Regions from separate parts of the Homo sapiens genome. Here all the other regions are linked to region 3. The links come from fine-mapping of genetic effects on gene expression. A gene starts in region 3. Each other region holds a variant in brackets. All regions are shown on one strand. Distances are from middle to middle.

The links.
Region 1: its variant is fine-mapped to the expression of NFRKB in whole blood (INTERVAL, PIP 0.95).
Region 2: its variant is fine-mapped to the expression of NFRKB in whole blood (TOPMed, PIP above 0.99).
Region 4: its variant is fine-mapped to the expression of NFRKB in whole blood (INTERVAL, PIP above 0.99).
Region 5: its variant is fine-mapped to the expression of NFRKB in whole blood (INTERVAL, PIP above 0.99).

The regions. Positions count from the first base shown.
Region 1 is chr11:129,839,971-129,845,076 of GRCh38, reverse strand. All of the region lies in intron 1 of TMEM45B (transmembrane protein 45B), which reads right to left. Among named protein-coding and RNA genes, the nearest start is that of TMEM45B, 27 kb to the right of the region's middle. The variant G/A (reference allele first, on the strand shown) is at 3,122.
Region 2 is chr11:129,793,688-129,798,793 of GRCh38, reverse strand. All of the region lies in intron 1 of LOC124902793 (a long non-coding RNA gene), which reads left to right. Among named protein-coding and RNA genes, the nearest start is that of TMEM45B, 20 kb to the left of the region's middle. The variant G/A (reference allele first, on the strand shown) is at 3,106.
Region 3 is chr11:129,893,493-129,898,585 of GRCh38, reverse strand. NFRKB (nuclear factor related to kappaB binding protein) reads left to right here and starts at 3,008. Exons shown (of 27, transcript NM_001143835.2): 1 at 3,008-3,090; 2 at 4,148-4,227. RefSeq lists a silencer at 2,852-3,291.
Region 4 is chr11:129,822,883-129,827,988 of GRCh38, reverse strand. All of the region lies in intron 1 of TMEM45B (transmembrane protein 45B), which reads right to left. Among named protein-coding and RNA genes, the nearest start is that of TMEM45B, 9.6 kb to the right of the region's middle. The variant T/C (reference allele first, on the strand shown) is at 2,826.
Region 5 is chr11:129,832,545-129,837,650 of GRCh38, reverse strand. All of the region lies in intron 1 of TMEM45B (transmembrane protein 45B), which reads right to left. Among named protein-coding and RNA genes, the nearest start is that of TMEM45B, 19 kb to the right of the region's middle. The variant TTTG/G (reference allele first, on the strand shown) is at 2,835.

The DNA.
Region 1 (5,106 bases), 54 kb after region 3:
CTTGAAGCAATTTTACATTTTTCAAAGCATGAATATATATATATTCTTTGATATTTAATCACATATTTACCATTTCCAGCGTTCTTCATTTCTTTCTGTCCATTTTAATAACTCTAAAACCTCATTTTCTTTCGACCTGAAGGATGTCCTTTAATATTTTTTCAGCTTTATTGCGGTATAATTGACAAATAAAAATTGTATATACTCAGGGTATATAACATGATGATTTGATATATGTATACATTGTGAAATGATTGGTATGATCAAGCTAATTAACAGAGTTATCACCTTACCTGGTACCCTTTCCTTTCCTTTGTAATGAGAATCCTTAAGATCTACTCTCTTAGCAAATGTCAAATATAAGGTTTATTATTATTACTATTATTTTTAGAGACAGGGTCTCGCCCTATCACCGAGGGTGGAGTGCAGTGGCATAATCATAGTTCACTGCAGCCCTGAACTTCTTGGGCTCAAGTGATCCTCCGCCTCAGCCTCATAAGTAGTTAGGACTACAGGTGCAGGCCACCACGCCTGGCCAATTTAAAAAATTTTTTGTAGAGACAACGTCTCGCTATGTTGCCCAGGCTGGTCTTGAATGTTTGGGTTCAGGCTATTCTCTCGCCTCAAACTCCCAAGGTGCTGCGATTACAGACATAAGCCACTGTGCCTGGCCAGTATATTATTATTAATGATAGTCACCCTCCTGTACATTAGGTCTCCAAAATTTACTCATAACTGCAAGTTTGTACCCTTTGACCAATATCTCCCCATTTCCCCCACTGCTCCAGAACCCTGGTAACAGGTATTCTATTCTGTTTATATCCAGTTTGATTATTTTAGATTCCACATATAAGTGAGATCACACAGCATTTTTTCTGTGTCTGGCTTATTTCCCTTAGTATAAGGTCTTCAAGGTTCATCCATGTTGTTGCAAATAGCAGGATTTCCTTCTTTTTTAAGGCTGAATAATATCCCATTCTATATATATATACACCACATTTTTTTTGTCCATTCATCAATCAGTGAACACTTAGATTGTTTCCATATCTTGGCTATTGCAAACAAAGCTGCAGTGACCATGGGAGGGCAGATATCTTTTCAAGATAGGGAGTTTATTTGCTTTCGATATATACACAGAAGTGAAATTGCTGGATCATAGGGTAGCTCTATTTTTAATTTTTTGAGAAACCTCCACACTGTTTTCCATAATAGATGTACCAATTCACATTCCCACCAACAGTATGTAAAGGTTCCCTTTATCCACATCCACACCAATCTTGTTTTGTTTTTTGTTTTGATTTTTTGGCAACAGCCATCCCAACAGGTATAAGGTAATATCTTATTGTGACTTTGATTTACATTTCCCTGACGATTAGTGATGTTGAGCATCTTTTCATAAACCACTTGGCCATTGTATGTCTTCTTTAGAGAAATGTCTATGCAGGTCCTTTGCCCACTTTTTTTTTTTTTTCTCAAAGCAGAAAATTTATTGCCTACATTCTTTGACTACAATGCTATAACAACAGAAATATTTTCTTTTACAAAAATCTCAATCACCTTAAACATTTTTTAAGTCACTAAATAACTTTGGGTCAAAGAAGAAATCAAAACTGCAAATACATAAAAGCAAACATCAATTGGCATTGTATACATTAGAACATATGAAATAGATTATAGTAAACAATTATTAAAACACAAAGAATCCAGGATGCGGAAAGCTGGGATGAGTATTACACCCTAACAGCAACGATAGCAGATAAACTACAAAATCATAACTTTTCCTAAACTCATTTGAGAACTGAGATCATAGGGCAATCAAAAAGTCTAAAATAGGCTGGGCACAGTGGCTCATGCCTGTAATCCCAGCACTTTGGGAGGCTGACTGAGGCAGGCGGATCACCTGAGGTGAGGAATTCAAGACCAGCCTGGCCAACATGGCAAAACTCCATCTCTACCAAAAATACAAAAAATTAGCCAGCCGTGGTGGCGCATGCCTGTAGTTCCAGCCACTCGGGAGGCTGAGGCAGAAGAATCGCTTGAACCTGAGAGGCGGAGGTTACAGTGAGCCGAGATTGCACCACTGCACTCAGCCTGTTGCCTACTTTTTAATAGGGTTATTTGTTTTTTACTATTGAGTAGTAAGAGTTTCTTGTATATTTTGGATTTAGCTCCTTATTGCATATATGGTTTGCAAATATTTTCTCCCATTCTATGGGTATCTTTACTCTCTTCATGGTTTTCTTTGCTATGCAAAAGCTTTTTACTTTGATGCAATCCTACTCCTTTACTTTTGCTTTTGTTGCCTGTGCTTTTGTTGTCATATCAAAAAAGAAATCAACGCTAGCACCAATGTCATGTATCTTTCCCTGCATATTTTCTTCTAGGAGTTTTACCATTTTAGGTCTTACATTTAAATCTTTCATCCACCTTTAGTTGATTTTTGTATATGGTGGAAGATAAAGATCCAATTTCCTTATTTTTTTTTGCATGTGGATATCCAGTTTTTCCAGCACCATTTATTGAAGATACTATTCTTTCCTCATTCTTGTTCTTGACACCTTGTAGAAGATTAGTTAACCTTATATGAGTGGGTTTATTTCTGTGCTTTCAATTCTGTTCCATTGCTCTATGTGTGTTTTTATGCCAGTACTATATTGTTTTGATTGCTATAGCTTTATAATATAATTTGAACACAGGAAGTGTGATGCTTCTGGCTTTGTCCTTCCTGTGTGGTTCTCTTTGTGTTTTTTAAATTCAGTGTTGGTTGAGTTTTAAAAAAAATCTGCAATTCAATATCTTTCATCAAACCTGGGAAGCTTTCAGCTATTACTTCTTTATTTTTTTCTCTCTCCCTTTCTGCGGCTTCCATTACACGTATGTGGGGACATTGAGCATCATCCCATGTGTGTCTGAAGGTCTGTTCATTTGTCTTCATTTTTCTTTCTGTTTTTCGAATTGGATCATTTCTATTGGTCTATTTTCATGTTCACTAGTTCTTCCACTATCTCAAAATCTGCTATTGAGCCCATCTAGTGAATTCGAAATTGTACCTTCCAACTCCAGAATTTCCATTTAATTCTTTTTACAGTTTGTATTTCTCTATTTAGATTCCCTATTTGTC[G/A]AGTCATTTAAATCATATTTTCTTTTAATTCCTTGAACAGTTTTCTTTAATTCTCTGAGGCCGGGCGCAGTGGCTCATGCCTGTAATCCCAGCACTTTGGGAGGCCGAGGCGGGTGGATCACTTGAGGTCAGGAGTTCAAGACTAGCCTGGCAAACATGGCGAAACCCCATCTCTACTAAAAATACAAAAAATTAGCCGGGCGTGGTAGTGGGTGCCTGTAATCTCAGCAACTTGGGAGGCTGAGGCAGGAGAATCACTTGAACCCAGGAGGTAGAAGTTGCAGTGAGCTGAGATCACGTCACTGCACTCCAGCCTGGGCGGGCGACAGAGTGAGACTCTTGTCTCCAAAAAAAAAAAAAAAACAAAAAAACAAAAGAAAACTTCAAGCCCATTACACTTCCAACCCCTGTCAGTCCCTCTGTGTGGGGGTTGGAGAAGGCCAGTTTTCAAGTCCCTTATCTCCCTTGCTGGGCTCTCTCAGGTCTTCTCCATATATGCATAGTTTTTTCAGTCAGCCAGGGATGCGTGAAGAGCTCACTTCAATACTTCTCTGATTCTCATTTCCAGAATCCCCCTGTTAAATTCCTGGTTGGCCTGCTGCTTGCCCCAAGTGGGGCTGCAACCTCAAGCTAGCGAAGCTGTGGATTTGTCCTGCTCATTTCCAAGTGTTCATTCCCATGTTAAGCCAGCAAAGCCAAGGATTTTCAACCCCCCAGCCACTGCTCTGAATTGAATCTGTTTGTGTGGCAGTTTTCATGGCCAGCCCCATCTTACTTAAAAGTCATTGGCTGAGCTGGGGGGTGATGGGAGCAGCCACAGGCAAAAAAAGCCACCATCTCCTACTTGCCTGAAGATCTAGTAGTTTTTCAAGAATAAATGCTGCTCAATTTTTTGCCTGCATTTTGTCAATTTCCAGTTCCCTGAAATGCTTGGTTTTGATAAACAATTTTGTCTAGTTTTATATATTTTTTGGTTGTTTGTTGCTTTTTTTTTTTTTTTTTTTTTTTTACAGAAAGAAATTGCCTGCCTCTTTGTGCTGCCATAACTGGAAGGCCTTCTCCTCGTTATTATTTTTTGAGATGGAGTTTCGCTCTTGTTGCCCAGGCTGGAGTGCAATGGTGCAATCTTGGCTCACTGCAACCTCTGCCTCCAAGCGATTCTCCTGCCTCAGTCTCCCAAGTAGCTGGGATTACAGGCGTGCACCACCACGCCCAGCTAATTTTTTTGTATTTTTAGTAGAGACAGGGTTTCACCATGTTGGTCAGGCTGATATAGAACTCCTGACCTCAAGTGATCCACCTGCCTCAGCCTCCCAAAATGCTGGGATTACAGACGTGAGCCACTGTGCCCAGCCCGCTTTCTTTTTAAACCCTCCTTTGAACATAAAAAATTTACATGTTTGTTTAATGTTTAACACAGGTCCCTTTCAATATCAAGCTTATTATACTTCATTTTCCTAGGCAAAGGTGCAGAAAAACCAGCTTTGCAAATGTAGGTCAAAACTGCACAGTGACTAACCGGCTTCCCTCCTCCCTGCACTTCCTCATTTTTCTCAGAAGCAGTACCTGAAATAAAGGCAGAGTCCTTGTCTGCCTCTATGTACTTGATACCAGCTTGTCAAGACCCACCCTTCCCTTTTACCTCGTCTAAAATTCACACCAGTGGACAGCAGGGCCTGCAGCATGTCTGTAGAAATTTATTTAAACTTATGTATGATTCATAGAAGACTGAGTACTTTGATTTGATGGGGATGGGCTATATTTCTTCCAATAACAAATTAATGGATTAGTTCATTAGATTAGCTACATTATGGAACACGTGGAGGAGATGGAGGATGAGTTAGTTTTAGTTACAGGAGGAATAAGGTAATAAATAACTTCAAGTAGAACAATAAAAATTTGGACTTCTAAATAATTTGGATAACCCATTTTCCAAATATAGGCTAAGCCCCTGCTGTGGTTTAGCATTAAAAACATTTAAATAA
Region 2 (5,106 bases), 100 kb after region 3:
CCTGCTGTTCAGATTCTCTTATCCCATGGTGTGATCCTTAGATGTGGTGCTCTTCCCTTTCCCCTAGGACTGGGGCTTCCTAAGAGCTGGACTATAGTGATTCTTACTGCTCTTCTAGGCCTAGCCACCCAGTGGAGCTACCAGGCTATGTGCTGGTGCTGGGGAATGTCTGCAGAGTTCTGTGATGTGGTCTTTCTTCAGGTCTCCCATCCTTGGATCGCAGCACCTTCTCTGGTGGAGGTGGCAGGGGAGTGAGGTAGACTCTATGAAAGTCCTTGGTTGTAGATATGTTTAGTGTGCTGGCTTTCTGTAATGCTGGTTACACTAGTGGTAAAGTTGTCACATGAACACACACAGGACCTTTGGTTAGCCAGGATGTTTCAGGAAGTGGAATTAGGTGTTGTCTTTTCCTTCCTGGGATCAGGGTTATTCTGTCATGAGTTACTGTGGTGGCCTGAGTTGGTTGGCCTCTAGCCAGGAGATGGTGCTTTCAAGAGAGCACCAGCTGCAGTAGTCGTAGGGGGCTCTAAGCTTGCCCTAAGATGGTCAGGGTAAGTATTTTGGATACTCAGGTGATTGGCAGGGCCATAAAGCTCCCAAGAGTTTCTGAGTTTTGTGTTCAACTACCAGGGCAAGTAGGAAAATACCATCAGGTTGGGGCAGAGTTAAGAGGGTCTAGGCTCAGATTCTCCTTGGGTGGGGCTTGCTGCAGCCACTGTGAGTGATGGAGGATAGTTCTCAGGCCAATGGGGTTATGTTCCCAAGAGGATTTTGGCTACCTCCACTGTATCATATAGTTTGCCAGGGTAGTAGGAGATAGCTGGTAGCAAGAGGCCTGACCCAGCTCCCACACCATTGGTCAGGCCAGCCTCTCTTCTGCAGTGGACCATTCAGACCTTGCCCCAGGCTGTGAGCTTACCCCACTGAGAAAGCAAGCACGGCTTTCAGACCTCGCCTCTCTCCATCTGCCTACTTCATTGGCAGCACCTTGTATCCACAACACCTCCCACTCATCACCTGGACTCCACTCAAGAAAATTTGTGCCCAGTTGAAACCACTACCAATTTCACTTGGGAGGTTTCTTCACCCTGTGGCCCTTCCCCAATTCCACTGGCTGCCTTCCTTGAGGGCCTCTGTAAGATATACTCAGGGATGGCTTCCCTGGGGTTGAGCTGGAGACTTGGAGTACATCCAAGGCACTTCCCAATGCTACTTCTACTTTTCTACTTTGTGTGAATCCCTAAATCCATTTAATCTCTAGGTAAGGTTAAATTCTTCTCCTGTGATCTGGATTTTCGGATTCCCCAGTGGGGATGTGTATTCAGAGGTAAGTTTTCCCTTTCTCACACTTTGGGAACTCACAGTTTTTTTGCCTGTTTCATGAAATTTGCATTGGCGTGCTGCTTCTTTCAAAGGCTCTGTGAATTTTTTCGCTTTTCCTGGTATGTTCCTGCCATGGTTCTTAGAGCAAAAGATCATGGTGTGAGTCTCCACATGCTGTTCTGTCCATCCATGTGGGAGCTGCACATTAGCTCTGTCTCCTAGCTTCCATTTTCCCTGATTTTAATTTTTTTTTTTAAATAGAGATGAGGTCTCCCTATGTTGCCCAGGATGGTCTCAAACTCCTGAACTGAATTGATCCTTCTGCCTTGGCCTCCCTAAGTGCTGGCATTATAGGTGTGAGCCACTGCACCTGGGTGACAAACCAGTTTTGAAAAAGTAAGTCTGACTGTTTAGGTTCGTTTTACAGGTCAAGTTAATCTTCAATCAAGTAGTTAAAAGGTAAATTACTAATAATCAATTATAGAATAATACAATAATACCAGTTAATTATTACCAAGTTGTTTTAGTATAATAGTGGGACAGATTAGTGGGTTTCTTTTTATAATCTTTTTATTCATTTACACCGAGGGAATATAGCATCTTTCATCCAAAGAACTGAACATTTAATCCAAAGAACTGAACATTTTAAAACATGAGCATTTAAAAAGCGATTATATTTTGAAAACCTGGAGTCTTGCTGTTAAATCTCTTTGATTCCAGATACACAATTTTCTGGAAGTCATTATATTAGGGACAATGAAAGAGGCTCAGAAAGAATTCTGATTTCCTTTCACAATACAGTCATTTCCCAAAACCTAGTGCTGGGCTTGCAAAGCAAAAACACACAAATCTTACAAAGCAAAAACACACAGATTTTCCTTGCAGTGACCAATATTGCAAGAAAAATTAGTGTTCTTAAATGAATGTAATTATATGTGGAACTTAGCAAAGGCAAGGATGGCATTTTAATTCAATGGGAAGTGGTTTATGTGTTGCTAGTATAATTGACTATTATTTTGGAAGATCTTATCATAGAGTTTCTCATTATCTAATCTCTCCTTGGCCATCCTGGTGCTAGCCATCCAGAATAAGTATTATTATTTTTTCCAGCTAATATGGTTTGGCTCTGTGTCCCCAGCCAAATCTCATGTTGAACTGTAATCCTCAGTCTTGGGGGAGGGACCTGGTGGGAGGTGATTGGCTCATGAGGCAGATTTCCCACTGCTGTTCCCATGATCATGAGTGAGTTCCCACGAAATCTGGTTGTTTAAAAGTGTGCAGCACTTCTCCCTTTGCTCTCTCTCTCCTGCCGCAATGCGAAGACATGCTCATTTATCCTCCACCCTTCTGCCATGATTGTAAGCTTCCTGAGGCCTCCCGAACCATGCCTCCTGTATAGCCTGTGGAACTGTGAGTCTATTAAAACTCTTTTCTTTATAAATTACCTAGTCTGAGGTAGTTCTTTATAGCTGTGTGAGAACTGACTAACACAGAAAACTCATACCAGGAGAATTGGGGCATTATTATAAAGATACCTGAAAATGTGGAAGCAATTTTGAAACTGGGTAACAGACAGAGATTGGAACACTTTGGAGGGCTCAGAAGAAGACAGGAAGATGAGGGAAAGTTTGGAACTTCTTAGAGACTTGTTGATTGGTTTTGACCACAATGCTGATAGTTATATGGACAACGAAGTCCAGGCTGAGATGGTCTCTGATGGAGATGAGGGACTTACTGGGAAGTGAAGCAAAGGTCACTGTTGCTATGCTTTAGAAAGAGACT[G/A]GCAGCATTGTGCCCTTGCTCTAAGGATCTGTGGAACTGTGAACTTGAGATGATTTAGGGTATCTGCTGAAAGAAATTAATAAGCATCAAAGCATTCAAGAGGTGGTCTGGCTGCTTCTAAAAGCCTATGTTCATTTGCATAAGCAAATGAGAAGAGAAGCAGAGCATATTTAAAAGAGAAGCAGAGCATAAAAGTTTGGAAAATTTTCAGCCTGACCATGTTGTAGGAAAGAAAAACCCATTTTCTTGGGAGAAATTCAAGCCTGCTGCAGAAATGTGCATAAGTAAAGAGAAGCCAAATGTTAATAGCCAAGACAACGGGGAAAGTGCCTCCAGGGCACTTCAGAGACCTTCATGGCAGCCCCTCCCATCACAGGCCTGGAGGCCTAGGAGGGAAAAATGGTTTTGTGCACCAGGTCCAGGGCCCCACTGCTCTGTGCAGCCTTGGGACATGACGCCCTGTGTCCCAGCCACTCCAGCTCCAGCCTTGGCTAAAGGGTCCAAAGTATAGCATGGGCCATTGCTTTAGAGGGTGCAAGCCCCAAGCCTTGGTGGCTTCTGTGTGGCATTGGGCTTCCAGGTGCACAGAAGGCAAGAGTTGAGGTTTGAGAGCCTCTGCCTAGATTTCAGAGGATGTATAGAAATGCCTGGATATCCAGACAGAAGTCTGCTGCAGGGGCAGCGTCTTCATGGAGAACCTCTACTAGGGCAGTGCAGAAGGAAAATGTGGAGTTGGAGCTCCCACACTGTTTCCCCACTGGGGCACTGCCTAGTGGAGCTGTGAGAAGATGGCCACCGTCCTCCAGATCCCAGAATGGTAGATCCACCAACAGCTTGCACTGTGTGCCTGGAAAAGCCACAGGCCTACTCAATGCCAACTCTTGAGAGCAACTGTGGGAGCTGAGCCCTGCAGAGTTACATGAGCATAGCTGCCTAAGGCCTTGGGAGCCCACCCCTTGCATTAGTGTGCCCTGGATGTGAGACATGGAGTCAAAGGAGATTATTTTGGAGCTCTAAAATTTAATGACTTCTCTGCTGGGTTTTGGACTTGCATGGGACCTGTAGCTCCTTTGTTTTGGCCAATTTCTATCTTTTGGAGCAGGAGCACTTACCCAATGACTGTATCCCCATTGTATCTTGGAAGTAATGAACTCATTTTTGATTTTACAGGCTCATAGGTGGAAGGGACTTGCCTTGTCTCAGATAAGACTTTGGACTTGTGGGGACTGATGGGAAGGCATGATTGATTTTGAAATGTGACAAGGACATGAGATTTGGGAGGGGTTGGGGTGGAAAAATATGGTTTTGCTTTGTGTTCCCACCCAAATCTCATGCTGAATTGTAATCCCTAGTGTTGCAGGAGGGGGCTGGTGGGGGGTGATTGGATCATGGTGGCAAATTTCTCCCTTGCTGTTCTTGTGACAGTGAATGAGCTCTCATGAGGCCTCTGGTTGTTTAAAAGTGTGTGGCACTTCCCCCTTTGCTCTCTCTCTCCTGCCATCATGTGAAGATTTTGCTGCTTCCCTCTTGCCCTTCTTCCATTATTGTAAGTTTCATGAGGCCTCCCCAGTCATGCCTCCCATATAGTCTGTGGAACTGTGAGTTGATTAAACCTCTTTTCTTTATATATTACCCAGTCTCAGGTAGTTCTTTATAGCAGTTTGAGAACGGACTAACACACCAGCCTTCCTTTTAGATAGGCGGAATTATGTGACTAAGTTCAGGCCAATGGGCTGTGAGTGGAAATGATACAGGCAACCTCCGAGGGGTGTCCTGAAAAGAAGAGAGTGTGCCCATCTTCTCCCTTTCCCCTCTCCTGCTGCCTGGAAGATGGTAATGGGTCATCTTAGACCAATGTTAGGGCAAGAGGAAGCTAGATTCTTGGATAGTTTCACACAGTGGTTTCCTACTAGCGTAGACTACTAAACTAGTGTCCACTAGTGCCCACCTGGAATGACCACCTCCAGACTGTTAGGTGGAAAGATAAATAAAATTATATCT
Region 3 (5,093 bases):
GATCATTTGAGGTCAGGAGTTCAAGACCAGCCTGGCCAACACGGTGTAACCCTGCTTCTACTAAAAATACAAAAATTAGCCAGGCGTGGTGGTGGGTGCCTGTAATCCCAGCTACTCAGGAGGCTGAAGTGGGAGAATCGCTTGAACCTGGGTGGTGGAGGTTGCAGAGAGCTGAGATTGCGCCTCTGCACTCCAGCCTGGGTCACAGTGCAAGACTCCACCTCAAAAAAAAAAAAAAAAAAAAAAAAAACATGAAGAGTAGCTGTGAGAGGCTAAATGGTAGACTAGACACATCTTAGGAAAGAATTGCTGAGCTTAAGGATATCTCAATAGAAACCTCTATAACTGAAAGACAAACAATATCCAAAAACTGTGAGATGATGAAAAAAAGGTATAACTATGCCTCATGGGAATACTAGCAGAAGACAGAGAAAGGAACAGAAGAAATATTTGAAGCAATAATGATTGATTATTTCCCCAAATCAATATGGAAGATGAAACCACAGATCCGGGAAGCTCAGAGGACACACAGGATAAATGCAAAAAAATCCTTCAAAACCAAAAAACAAATGAACAAAAAATGACTTTTCTTCAGAAACTGTGCACACAAGGAGCGAGTGGAATGAAATGTTTAAGGTGTTGAGAGAAAAAAGCAGTGTCTAACCTAGAATGCTGTAGCCCATGAAATTATCCCCCAAAAGCAAAGGGGATTTGTTGCCAGTAGACCTGCCTTGGAGAGAATGTTAAGTTTTTCAGAGAGAAGAAAAATGATAAAAGTCAGAACCTCAGATCTATATAAAGAAAGAACATCATTATTACCTTTAATAATGAAGGTAAAGGAAAAGTCTTACTTATTCTTTGTTGTTTTATTTTTCTTTTTACTTTTTTGAGACAGGGTTTCACTCTGTTGCCCAGGCTGGAGTGCAGTGGTGCAATCACAGCTCACGGCAGCTTCGATCTCCCTGGCTCAAGCGATTCTCCCACCTCAGTCTCCTGAGTAGCTGGGACTACAGGCACGTGCCACCACACCTGGCTAATTTTTTGTATTTATTTTAGTAGAGATGGGGTTTCACCATATTGCCCAGGCTGGTCTCCAATTCCTGGGCTCAAGTGATCCACCCATCTCAGCCTCTCAAAGGGGAAGATCCTGGGCATTGGGACTGAGGTGTTTTTGATACGTTCATGCAAAGATGCCTGGAGTGGGTGGTTGGATTTCTGGGTTGTTTGATTCATAATTGCTTGATTCATAATTGCCAAAACCTGGAAACAATGAAGATATCTTTCAGTAAGCGAATAGATAAAACTGTGATATATCGACACAATGGAATATTATTCAGCACTAAAAAGAAATAGGAGCTATCAAGCCATGAAAAGACATGGAGGAAACTTCAATGCCTGTTACTACGGGAAGGAAGCCAATCTGAAACGGCTACATACTATGTAATTCCAACTAGATGACACTCTGGAAAAAGGCAAAACTATGGAGACAAAAAGATCAGCGGTTGCCAGGGGTAGAGGAGAGGGAGAGATGAATATGCAGAGCACAGATGATTTTTAAGACAGTGAAATTACTCTGCATTATACTGTGATGGTGGGTAATGATGTATCAATGTAGGTTCATCAGTTCTTTTGTTTGAGATGGAGTCTCGCTCTGTCTCGCTCTGTCGACAGGCTGGAGTGCAATGGCTCAATCTCGGCTCACTGCAACCTCCGCCTCCCCGGTTCAAGCAATTCTCCTGCCTCAGCTCCCGAGTAGCTGGGACTACAGGTGCCCGCCACCACGACCGGCGAATTTTTGTATTTTTAGTAGAGACGCGGTTTCACCATGTTGGCCAGGATGGTCTCGATCTCCTGATCTCGGGATCCGCCCGCCTCGGCCTCCCAAAGTGTTGGGATTACAGGCGTGAGCCACCAGGCCGGGCCGGGTTCATCAGTTCTAAGAAATGTACCACTCTGGTAGAGGATGTTGATAAAGGGAAGGCGATGCATGTGGGGAGGTGGGGCGGGGAGTATTTGGAAAATATCTTTCTGCTCAATTTTGTTAACTTTAAACCACTTTAAAAAAACAAAGTCTATCAAAAATTATAGTTTACATTGTTTTTACTCTTTTTCTCTTTCTGGTCTTGTCACAATCTCAAGGTAAGGGAAATATCGGTGACAACTATAGAGTGATATTCCACTGCCATTTATACTCGATAGTTTCTAATTCAAGAGCCTCTCAACAGTGTAACAGGAACTTAGAGCATATGTGGAGCCAGTAGAGGAACAGAGATCGGGTTGTTTGGAAACTACTCTCTTCCAGGAAGGGAAGAACATTAGCTCGGCCGGCCGGCTTCTCTGGTCCCATCCACACACAGAACTGAGGATGGTCTCTGCGCCACTGCTGGGAGTACCTGGAATAAGTAGTGTGAAGCCGTACTAAGCAAAACCCAGTGAATAACAGGAAAGGGGCCTTCATATCTAAGAAGAGGAAAATGATGGAGTTTAACTTTAAAATGTGATCCTTCGATGTGTTTACATTCTTTCTGGACATCGAGGGCCCGGGGACGGGAAGGAGGAATGAAGGAACTCGGAAGCACAGGCTGAGGTCGCGTTCTACTCATGTCCTCAACTGTAAAATGGGCACTAATAGTGCATAGCTCACAGGGCTGCAGCACAAAGACGGTGGGTAGAAAGTGCTTAGCATAGGGCCTGGGGCAGGGTATGCTCTCTGCAAACGTCAGCTAATAGACGTGCCTTCGCTCACGGGCTATGGAACTTTGATTCGCGGTCAGGCAAAGACAGGCACTGTCTGGGGCCTCTGGAAGCTCCTAAATCAGGTGAGACGCGCAAGCAGGCTGGAACCTGCATCCCCAGGCCCAGCCGCGCGCAGGCACCCTCGCCGACCCTCCGCTCTCCCGAGCCGCTCCAGGACCCGCCCGCTGTGGCCCCGCCCCGGCACCCTCCAGGCCCCGCCCCGCGCTGCCCCGCCCCTTCCGCCGCGCAGGCCCAGAGCGTGCGCGCACCCAGACTCCTTGCGGGAGCGAGTGCGTCTGGGAGCCCGCGGCCGGAGAAGGGCTGCGGGTTAGGGGGCCGGCGCCCGCGGTTCAGGTGAGGGCGGGCAAGGGGCGGCGAAAGGGTTGAAGTGTCTCCTGGGAGTGGAGGGAGCGGGAGCGGGCGGCTGGGTCCGCGAGGTCGCTGCCCGTGTGGGCGTGGGGAGCGGGAGCGGGGCGTGGGGAGCGGTGCGACGCGTGAGGCTGGGGGTTAGGGTTAGGCACGGCGTGGGGGAGGGGCGGGGCCGAGCCGTGCAGTTCTGAGGATTGGACCCGGGCCTTGGGCCAGCCGGGCTGGCACCGGAGGGGAATTTGCTGCAGAGTTGAGGGCTTTGGAGCCGGCGGTTGCTCTGGAAGGACCCGAGGGTTTAGCTTCTGCGTTGGGGAGGGTCCAGCGGGGAAAGTTAGACCAGGTGCTGAAAGCCAGTGATGAGAGGCCGAGAGGCCTTCGTGGTCTAGTGAAGAGGTTCAGAACGCCCGAAGATCTGGAAATCCTTGGCTTCCGGGGTCCAACTCCCTGGCAGCTGCCTGGTTTTGGTATTTTGAGATTCTGTTCAGAATAGTGGCAGTGCAAAGGTTGTCAGTGGACTAGATTAACTTTAGCTAGACACGCACCGTCACTGAAGAAACTTGTGAGCAAGTTGTATAGAGACCTCCTAAGAGGCAGGTAGGACACTGACTTTGCAGTTGATAGTCTGTTCTATGCCAGTTCTGTTAAGAAGGTTTTATTCTGAGCATCAGGTTGCTTCTGCAATTTTTTTTTGGTGCTATTTTGAAGTTTTGTTAAACTCACATGCTATGTGCTGTCTCACCCGCTTCACTTATTTAGGCATAGGCATGATGAGGATGTCATTTCACCATGTGCTGAAGGGTGATGAGGGGGCACAGTTGCTTGGGGACCACCCACGTGACTTGACTCAACGCTTAAGTTTCTGCTATATCTTTACATGGATCTGAAATCTCTTCAAGGGAGCTTGAAATAATTTAGTGGAACATGCTTCATTTTACATATAGTTATTCTAGAACTGTTCTTTATCATTGGAGAATTTTGGAAAAGAAAAGTACCTGTATTACGTAATTCACACTGTCACTCATCTAGAGATTATTCATTGCAGGATTCCAGAATTGGAAATAACGGGAGGGAGGACCTGGTCCAGCTTCCCTTCCTCAAATAAGGAAATTGACACCTGGCGTGGTAAGATTTGTGGAATGTGGTGTTTGTGGAATGTGGAATATGGAATTCTGGTGTTTTGACTGTTAACATCCTTTTTTCTTTTCATTTTAGTATGCTTTTTAGCCCACTTTGTAGGAATAGGAGCTGGAAAGGATGGATTTAGTAAATGTTGGTAGAGTGATTGAGTTTAAGCTCCCTGTGGTCCTGTTAGCATTGTGCAGTCCTGTGCTATCAACTTGACCCCTAATCCCAGCCATCAGTCTGAAAATGTTGTGGTATGTAGTTTTCTGAAGGTGATCAGCAGTGTTCTGTTATTACACGAAGGAGAAAAGTAGCATTAATTTACATGATTATACGGATCAAATGGACCAACTAAAGGCAGATTGGCCATTGACTTTACTGGTGGTTATGGTCAGGTGTGTGGAACCTCAGGAATTTATATGGACTAATAAAGTCATATCAGTAAGGTTCGTTTTTATTATTTAAATGTTGCGAGGTTATACAAGAGGTATTGTGTGTAGCATTAAGCACATGGGTTTGCAGGCAGGTAGACCTGAGTTTCAGTACTGCCTCTGGGGTTGGGCAAGTTACTGACCTACTCTGATTTTCAGTTTTAATTCCGATGTAATAACCCATGACCTTACTTTGCACAGTTGTAGGAATTAAATGAGATATGTGAAAGGCCTGGCTTTTAATAGGCCCTCATAAAGTGACTGTTAGCATTTGCATTTTACTAGTGTATGTTGATTTTCAGCAAATTTTCTTTTGTGAAAGAACAACAAACAATATTCTTTCTCTTTTTCCTTTCCTTTTTTTTTTTTTTTGAGACAGGGTCTCTGTTGCCCAGGCTGGAGTGCAGTAGCGTGATCACGGCTTATTGTACCCTC
Region 4 (5,106 bases), 71 kb after region 3:
TTTTTTGTTTCTTTTTTTTGAGACAAGGTCTCACTCTATTGCCCAGGCTGGAGGGCGGTGGCACGATCTCAACTCACTGCAACCTCCGCCCCCAGGGTTCAAGTGATCCTCCTGCCTCAGCTTCCTGAGTAGCTGGGACCACAGGTGTGCACCACCACGCTCGGCTAATTATTTTATTTTATTTCTGAGGCAGAGTTTCGCTCTTGTTGCCCAGGCTAGAGTGCAATGGTGCAGTCTCAGCTCATGGCAACCTCCGCCTCCCAGTTCAAGCTATTCTCCTGTCTCAGCCTCTCGAGTAGCTGGGATTACAGGCACGCACCACCACGCCTGGCTAATTTTGTATTTTTAGTAGAGGCGGGGTTTCTCCATGTTGGTCAGGCTGGTCTCAAACTCCCGACCTCACGTGATCTGCCTGCCTCCGCCTCCCAAAGTGCTGGGATTATAGGTGTGAGCCACTGCGCCTGGCCATAATACCATATGTTTAATGCATGTTTTCCGTGTTTAGATACACACATACTTACCACTGTGCTATAACTGCTTACAGTGTGTGGTACGGTAATGTGCTGTACAGGTTTGAAGTCAGTTCTTGGAAAAAGTGCTCACACCTACAGACTCCCTTCAGCATCTGCTAACAGTGCGTATACTCAGCACTGACAGTATACACCGCATAGCCTAGATGTGTAGTAGGCTATGCCATCTGGGTTTGTGTAAGTACACTCTAGGATGTCCACACAACAAAATCGCCTAACGACACATTTCTCAGAACATGTCCCTGTCGTTAAGCACCACATGACAATACTTGTGAAAGACTGATTGTCCTGGGACGTACTGGTAGCAGTCCTAGCACATAGCACACAAAGTGGGTAACTCTCACCTGAGAAACTGGGCAGGCCTCACAGAGCGGGAGGCATTTGATTTGGGCCTTTCTTCAAACTGTCATGAAAATTAGGCAGTTTTGCTGGATCCTGAATTCGAGAATGAAAAATAAATTGGAGGCCGGGCACGGTGGCTCACGCCTGTAATCCCAACACTTTGGGAGGTCGAGGCGAGCAGATCACGAGGTCAGGAAATCGAGACCACGGTGAAACCCCATCTCTACTAAAAATACAAAAAATTAGCCGGGCATGGTGGTGGGTGCCTGTAGTCCCAGCTACTCGGGAGGCTGAGGCAGGAGAATGGCGTGAACCCAGGAGGTGGAGCTTGCAGTGAGCCGAGATCGCGCCACTGCATTCCAGCCTGGGTGACAGATCGAGACTCCGTCTCAAAAAAAAAAAAAAGAAAAACAAATTGGACTAAATTCTATTTTCTCACTATCTAACAAGAACACTGGCCACTGAGTCAGAATACTTGGGTCCTAGCCTGAATGCTGCTAGGAATTCACTCTGTGACCTTGAGCAAGACACATAGCCTCTCAGGGTCCTTTTTTTTTTTTTTTTTTTTGTGACAGAGTCTTGCTGTGTCCCCCAGGCTGGAGTGCAGTGGCGCCATCTCGGCTCACTGCAAGCTCTGCCTCCCGGGTTCACACCATTCTCCTGCCTCAGCCTCCCGATTAGCTGGGACTACAGGCACCCGCCACCACGCCCAGCTAATTTTTTGTATTTTTAGTAGGCACACGGTTTCACTGTGTTAGCCAGGATGGTCTCGATCTCCTGACCTCGTGATCCGCCCGCCTCGGCCTCCCAAAGTGCTGGGATTACAGGCGTGAGCCACCGCGCCCGGCCTCTTTATTTGTTAAATAGGGAGTTTGGAAGAGGGACTCTCCATGGCTCTTCTGAATTCTGAAATTCCTTTATGTCTTTGCTCCTCATTAATACATCACAAAAACGAAATGCAGAAGTTGGAGCAAGTTTTGGTCATGGAGAAGGGAGGATGAAACTAAGGCTATGGCTATTACCTACAAAGAAGCAGTTACCAGTTGCCACCTCAGCATACATTAGAGTGAAAGGACATCTCTGGACTTCAAAGGTGGGTTTAGTTTTCAAACAACCAAAAAAAAAAACCAAAAAAAACCTTACATATATTTCTGTAATTAACACTATCCTTAACTCAGCCATGGGAAAGAATACATTTAGTTCAGAATTCTCTTTCTGGGCGCTCAAGGAAAATAATAATGGAAAGATCTCTCCAAAGTCATGGAGTCAAATTTCCAAGATGCCAGGCCACTAAGGAACATTTCTTCAAGGCTTGGGCTCTCTGCCTTCTCCACCTCTTGGAAAAAGTGCTCAAGCTTACAGACAGACTCCTTCCTTCCTTCCCTCAGCATCCACTACCAGTGGGCTTGTTCAGCACTGACATTAGTGAGCAGGCAGAGGCTGGGCCTTCCACTTTACTCAACAGTCCTCCTTGCATAAGCCCTTACTTCCGTTTCCTCTTCCCCTTGCAAGAACTCTCACGCACACCCATGGATTAATCACCACTTGCACAATGGTGACTCCCACAACTTCATCTCCAGCTCTGGCCTTGTCTCTAAGTCTCAGACTCATAGATCCAACAACCTGCTGAACAGACAGACATGCACATAAACGTATAGATGTTTCTTAGACACCTCAAGTCAGTATTTCCAAGACTGAACTCACCATCTTCTTTCCCCACCAAATCGGCTTCTCTTCTCATATCCCAAACTTAGTTAATGGCTTAATGTCCAGTCACCCAGAAAGCCAGAATCTTGGGAGTCATTCTGGACTCTCTTCTCCCCTCACCATTGCCCCCAAAGACATCAAAATTCTGCTAAATTCGCTTCCCCAAGTATCCTGGTATTTTCTCTTTCCCTTCTGTGCCTGCAGCAATGATCTCATTTGGTCTCTCATTGTCTTTTTCCTAAACAC[T/C]GCGAGGCCTCTAGTCCTGCTGTCCATGAATTCTTCTTCCACCCCGCAGCCAGTCATCCACCTTCCGTGTACATCTGACTACACTACTGGAGGATGGAAAATGTTCCATTGGCTAACCAGCAGCCTGTGGAGGGGTCCACGTCCCCTTGCATTGGGTATACCTGAATGTGGCTCCTCTCCAGTGTCACCTCCCAATTCTCCCCACCATGAACCTGACAGTGTCCCCTTTGCTCATGTTGTCCCCTCTAAATTGCACGTCCTTTTCATTCCTCTTACTTGGTTTCCATATTTAGGCCTTATTTCCTCCAGGAAGCCTCTGTGAATCTCCAGGCTGGGCTAAGCGCCTCACCTCTGTGTTTTCAAAGGACCTCATACATACCATGATTTTTTATCACTTACCATGTTATATTAAAATTATATAGTGACATATGTCTTGCCCATTAGTCTACAGAATCTTCAAGAGTGGAGACCTTATCATCTCCATCAAAAACTAGCACAAGCTTGATACATAATAATAGTTCTTAAACTGAACTGAACTGATGCAGCTTAGCCTTCATCTTGAATCAAGAGAACACCATCTCCTAAATCTAGCCATTGGTAAAATTGTTGGTACCGTTACTATTTTCATACAATTCTTAGAGCTAGGTAAGTCCCTTGATTTCTACTACTGTGTCTCACAGACTGGCATATGTGTGAATCCTTTCCCCCCAGATGATATCTGAAATCACAAGACGAACATAATCCTGGAGTATCAATTTCACCTAAAGATTCTGGAAAAATGATTTTCATTTTAAAACAGATACAGACATATTGTGGGGTAGCATATATTTTTTAGTATTAAGAGAGACTGCACTTATGCCAGGCTGTTCTCAGACAAGTCTCCAGGTCCCTGGGAGTTTAGACTCTATTGTTAGTGCTGACGATTGAGAAACAGTAATCTATAGATCACTGTTTTGCACTGTAGTTTAGTTACTGTTCTAGAGCCTCCCATAGAGAAATAAACAGCCCCAGTGAGACCGAAGCAGGAGCTATCTCAGTAATGGCCAGAAGAGAGGGACTTTCATTGTGGGTCTGAGTTAGGTTTGAAAAGATGTCTGTGTGATTGACAGGTAGGTATTCTGAAATGAGCACAACAATGAGCTTTGTATAATGTATAAAATATGCCAGATTGTAGATCAATGTAGGGGAGGAGGCAGAAAAATGACCATTAGAACAGATCAAAGAGAAGCTCTGGATCAAAGTGCAGGCCGATCAAAGACACTGGAAGGAAGGGAAGGGCACTACAGTCAAGGGATGGAACATGAGGAAAAAAATAATCCAAACTGAACTGTGGCTCAGGAGGGACTCGATGCAGGGTGGTTGGTGATAACCTAAGAAATAATTAGATATTTAGTAGGGTGATATGGGGAGTTTTCAATCCAGGAAATTCTACTTAGAGTCCTAGTAGTTAGAGATCTTTCAAGTTTGTTTTCTTATAGCTATTCCATACCATCAGATTTGAGAATGAGGTAGCATCATCCAAGAGGTGGTGACATAAAAAGATTTAACAGAAACAGAGGAAATAGCAAGGGGACAGGTAGGAAGGGCTAGTTTAAAACAGATAATAGGGTCAATTTAAGTCAACTAACATTTATCAAGTACCTGTTATGCATAAGGCACTGTTCTGGGAGATGGAGTTGCAGGGGTGACAAGCCTGGGCCTGTGCTGTCAGGGAGTTTGCAGTCTTTGTTGAAGTCGCCTAAGAAGGAAAAGCTAACAGCAAAAAATCAGGGTCTAATGGGCAGGCTTTCCAAGTGAGAGGCCTTAAGAAGCTAAAGCAGGAACGATTCCTATCAAACGTAGTATCTGTTCCCTTCACGTGATCTAAAACTTTCCCAGGAAAAAAATAAAAAACATGAATCTGCTCCAAGTTTTGATGATCACTGTGGGGCTGCAGAAGGGAAAAATTGCATGGATTTGGAGGGTGACCTTCAAGGACAGAAATTCTGTCCCAAATTCTAGAGATATTAGAAAAATATTTTCCCAGGCTGGGTGTGGTGGCTCATGCCTGTAATCCCAGCACTTTGGGAGGCCGAGGTGGGTGGATCACAAGGTCAGGGGTTCGAGACCAGCCTGACCAACATGGTGAAACCCTGTCTCTACTAAAAATACAAAAATTAGCTGGGCATGGTGGTGGGCGCCTGTAATCCCAGCTACTCAGGAGGCTGAGGTAGGAGAATGGCTTGAACTCGGGAGGCGGAGCTTGCAGTGAGCTGAGATCGCGCCACTGCACTCCAGCCTG
Region 5 (5,106 bases), 61 kb after region 3:
ATGATTATGTCACTGCACTCCAGCCTGGGCAACAGAGGAGACCCTGTCTCAAAAAAAAAAAAAAAGCCCAGTGCAGTGGCTCATGCCTGTAATTCCAGCACTTTGGGAGGCCGAGGCGGGCAGATTGCCTGAGGTCAAGAGTTCAAGACCAGCCTGGCCAACATAGTGAAACCCTGTCTCTTACTAAAAATACAAAAATTAGCCGGGCATGGTCGTGGGCACCTGTAATCCCAGCTACTCAGGAGGCTGAGGCAGGAGAATCTCTTGAACCCGGGAGGCAGAGGTTGCAGTGAGCTGAGATGGCGCCACTGCACTTCAGCCTGAGAGACAGAGCAAGACTCCGTCTCAAAACAAAAAAAAGAAAAAAAAGAAACCCCTCACTCTCACCAGTCTTCTCCTTCCCCAGCCCTATCTACACGTGGTAGAGACCAGCCCGGGCTGGTCTTAAAGGGAGAAGAGCATGCTGTAAGAGGGAGTAAGTGGGATTTCAATAACAAAGAAAGAAGGCAGCCTGTTCTCTTCTCCCTTCAGGACTAAAGGGCTTTGGGAAGCAGGCCTGGGCGAGAGCAGGATCTCACAGCCTCGGCATTGCTGAGACTCTGGGCCACAGGGGTCTTGGTTGTGGGGCCGTCCTGCACATTGCGGGGTGTCCAGCAGGCAGCCACCAGTCGATTTTATATTTCTACAGGTTTGCCTTTCAATTCATAAATTGAATTATATAATATGTGGCCTTTTGTGACTGGCCCTTTCTGTTGGCACGATGTTTCCCAGGTTTCTCCATGTTGTAAGCATGAATCACCACTGAGTCCTTTTGATGGCTGAATGGTATTTCATTGTGTGGGTAGACCACATACACTGGTTGCTAGGGCTGGTAACACAGTACCACACACTGGGCAGATTAAACAACCATTTATATTCTCAGTTCTGGAGGCCTCTCTCCTTGGCTTGGAGATGGCCATCTTCTCTCAGTGTCCTCACATGGTCGTCCTCTTGTGTGTGTCTGTGTTCTTATAAGGACATTACTCATACTGCATTTGGGCCCCACCCTAATGATCTCATTTTAATTTAATTACTTCTTTAAAGATCTTATCTCAAAAGAGTCACATCCTGAGGTACTGGGAGATAAGACTTCAACATTTGAATTTGGAGAGAGCACACTCAGCCCATAACACCCTGTCCTCTGCTCCCTGAAAATCCATATCCTTCTCATATGCAAAATACACTTATCCCCATCCCTACAGTGCCAAAAGTCTTAACCCAGATCAGCATCAACTGTTAAGTCCCAAATCTCATGTAAGTATCGTCTAAACCAGGTATGGGTGAGATTTGAGGTATGGTTCATCCTGAGGCAAAATTCTCCAGCTGTGAACCTTTACGACCAGACAAGAAATTATCTGCTTCCCAAACAGGACAGGCAGAGCATAGACATTTCTAGTTTAAAAGTGGGACATTGGAAAGAAGAAAGTGGTCATGGATCTCCTGTCCTGGAACCTGGTAGGGCAAATTCCGTTCAATTTTTTTTTTTTTAATTTGAAATGGAGTTTCACCCTTGTCGCCCAGGCTGGAGTGCAATGGCGCGGTTTTGGCTCACTCCACCCTCTGCCTCCTGGCTTCAAGTGATTCTCCTGCCTCAGTCTCCCAAGTAGCTAGGATTACAGGCATGAGCCACCATGCAAGGCTATTTTTTGTATTTTTAGTAGAGACGGGATTTCACCATGTTGCCCAGGCTGGTCTCCAACTCCTGATCTCAGGTCATCCACCTGCCTCAGCTTCCCAAAGTGTTGGGATTACAGGCGTGAGCCACTGCGCCCAGCCCAATGCCAAGGCTTGAGAATAATCCTCTTTGGCTCAGTGTTCTGTTGTCTGGGTCCACAGGGTGGCCCTGCCTTCCAGGGCCATCACCCTGATTCCTCTACCCTAAATGCTGGCCCCACCCCTTGGTCCTGGGCTGGGGCATCCTGGCCTGCTGAAACCAAGGAAGTGGCACCAGACCTGCCCCTGAATCTGTGTGCCTGGGCCCAAGGTGGCAGTAGCAGCCTGGCAGATCTCTGAACTGGCTTCAGAGTCATTCTTCCCTTTCCTTTAAGGATAACTCATGATCACAGCCATATCGCTGTACTGGCTGGTCCTGCAGAATTCCAGAAATCTGACAATCTTCCTTCATTTCTTCCTATTTCTGTCTCCTTTGGTCCAAACTGGCAATGTCTGCTGGTATAAATTCTCAAAAACCTTGGCCTCCTATGCAATCCACAGGGGGTGAGGCCATTTGACAAGAGGGCCCTCCACAGATGTTCCTGGGAAAACCACATCTCTGTTCCCGACTTGCTGAGTTGGTTGACTGTATCCATGCATCACATTGGCCATCTTTTCAGACAGGGGTTCAGCCACACCCTTGGTCTTTTCTCCAGAATGTGCTTTCACACTTTTTGTAGAATGGATAGATGGAGAATTTTCCAAATCTTCAAGTTTTGGTTCCTTTTTTTCTAAAAATTCCTTTTTTAGCTTGTCTCTCTCCTCTCATATTTTACTATGAGCAGCAAGAAGAAATCAGGCCACCTTCAGTACTTTGCTTAGAAATCTCCTCAGCTAAATATCCAAGTTCATCATTTATAAGTTCTGCTTTCCATGAAACATGAGAATCCAATTCAACAAATTTCTTTGCCACTTTATAACAAGGTCTATCTTTCTTCTAGTTTCTAATATCATGTTCCTCATTTCTGTCCAAGATCTCACCAGAAGTACGTTTAACATTCATATTTCAGCCAACATGCTGTTCCTGATGATACATGTATTCTCTAAGATGACAGATGTTTCTCTCTCTTTTTTTTTTTTTT[TTTG/G]TGGAGATGGAGTCTCTCTCTGTCACCCAGGCTGGAGTGCAGTGGCATGATCTTGGCTCACTGCAACCTCTGCCTCCCAGGCTCAAGCAATTATCCTGCCTCAGCTCCCCGAGTAGCCGGGACTACAGGTGCATGCCACCACACCTGGCTAATTTTTGTATTTTTAGTAGAGATGGGGTTTCACCATGTTGGCCAGGCTGGTCTCAAACTCCTGACCTCAGGTGATCCACATGTCTTGGCCTCCCAAACTGCTGGGACTACCGGCGTGAGCCATGGTGCCCAGCTGATAGATGCTTTCTCTACAGCTCTGTTTTTTCTTTCTCAGTCCTCACTGGAATCACCTTCAATGTCCACATTTCTGTTGCTGTTTTTTTTTTTCCTTTGAGACTGAGTCTCGCTCTATTGCCGAGGCTGGAGTGCAGTGGCGTGATCTCAGCTCACTGCAATTTCTGCCTTTCAGGTTCAGGCAATTCTTCTGCCTCAGCCTCCTGAGTATCTGGGATTACAGGCGCACGCCACCACGCCTGGATAATTTTTGTATTTTTAGTAGAGATGGGGTTTCACCATGTTGGCCAGGCTGGTCTCGAACTCCTGACCTCAAGTGATCCGCCTGCCTCAGCCTCCCAAAGTGCTGGGATTACAGGCGTGAGCCACCGCGCCCGGCTAATGTCCACATTTCTATCAACAGTCTCTTTAAGGCAATTTAGGCCTTTTCCAACATGCACCTCCAAACTCTTCCAGCCCTTACTCACTGTTTAGTTCCAAAGCCACGTCTGCTCAACAGCACGCTATTTCTTGGTACCCAAATCTGTACTGGTTGCCAGGGCTGCTGTAACAAAGTCCCACAGACTAGGGGACTTAAACCACAGCCATTTATCTTCTAACAGTTCTGGAAGCTAGAAGTCTGAGACCAATGCATTGGCAGAATGGGTTTCTTCTGAGGTGTCTCTCCTGGGCTTGCAGATGACCGCCTTTGCCCTATTTCTTCAAATGGTCTTCTTTCGGTGTGTGTCTGTGTCTAAAGTTCCTTTTTTATTTCAGACACAGGTTTGCTCTTGTTGCCCAGGCTGGAGTGCAGTGGCACAATCTCGGCTCACTGCAACCTCCGCCTTCTGGGTTCAAGTGATTCTCCTGCCTCAGCCTCCTGAGTAGCTGGGATTACAGGTGTCCGCCACCATGCCTGGCTAATTTTTGTATTTTTAGTAGAGACGAGGTTTCACCATGTTGGCCAGGCTGGTCTGGAACTCCTGAGCTCAGGTGATCCACCCGCCTCAGCCTCCCAAAGTGCTGGGATTACGGGTGTGAGTCACTGCGCCTGGCCCTAAAGTTCCTCTTATAAGGATACCAGTCATATTGGATTACTGTCCTAATGACCTCATTTTAACTTGATTACTTCTTTAAAGATCCTGTCTCCAAACACAGGCATATTCTGAGGCACTGGAGGTGAGGACTTCAACATATACACTTGGAGGTGGGGGGACAAAATTCTGCCCATAACGCCATATGTTATTTATCCATTCATCAATTCACACTTACATTTCCTTTTTTTTTTTTTATTTTTCTGTTTATTTTTTGAGACAGAGTCTCCCTCTGTCGCCCAGGCTGGGGTGCAGTGGCACAACCTCAACTCACTGCAGCCTCCACCTCTCGGGTTCAAGCAACTCTCCAGCCTCAGCCTCCCAAGTAGCTGGGACTACAGGTGCGCCACCACAACCGGGTAATTTTTGCATTTTTAGTAGAGATGGGGTTTCACCATGTTGGCCAGGCTGGTCTCGAACTCCTGACCTCAGGTGATCCGCCTGCCTCGGCCTCCCAAAGTGCTGGGATTACAGGTGTGAGCCACCAGGCCCGGCCAATTAACACTTACATTTCCTTTCATAGATTTAATTACTAAATCAATACGAAAAATAACTCTCAGGTGTATAACAAGCTACAAAGATTTCAACCTTACTAAGTTTTTTTACTTTTTATTTCTGTGACAGTTTTTCCTGATGGCTCTGAAAGTCACCCTAAGATGGTTCTCTGTACTTTCTTGCCATTACTCTTCTACTTAAAAAGAAACCCACTCCTAATGACATATAATTTACGTACCGTAAAATTTACCCTTTTAAGGTGTTTAATTTGGTATTTTTTGGTTTACTAACAGCTGTGCAACCATTATTGCTATCTAATTTTATAAAAAAATTACAACTATTCAATTTTAAAATGCTTTTACCAACCCCCCACGAAATCCCATACAAATTGATGGTCATTCCCGTTTCCCGCCAGC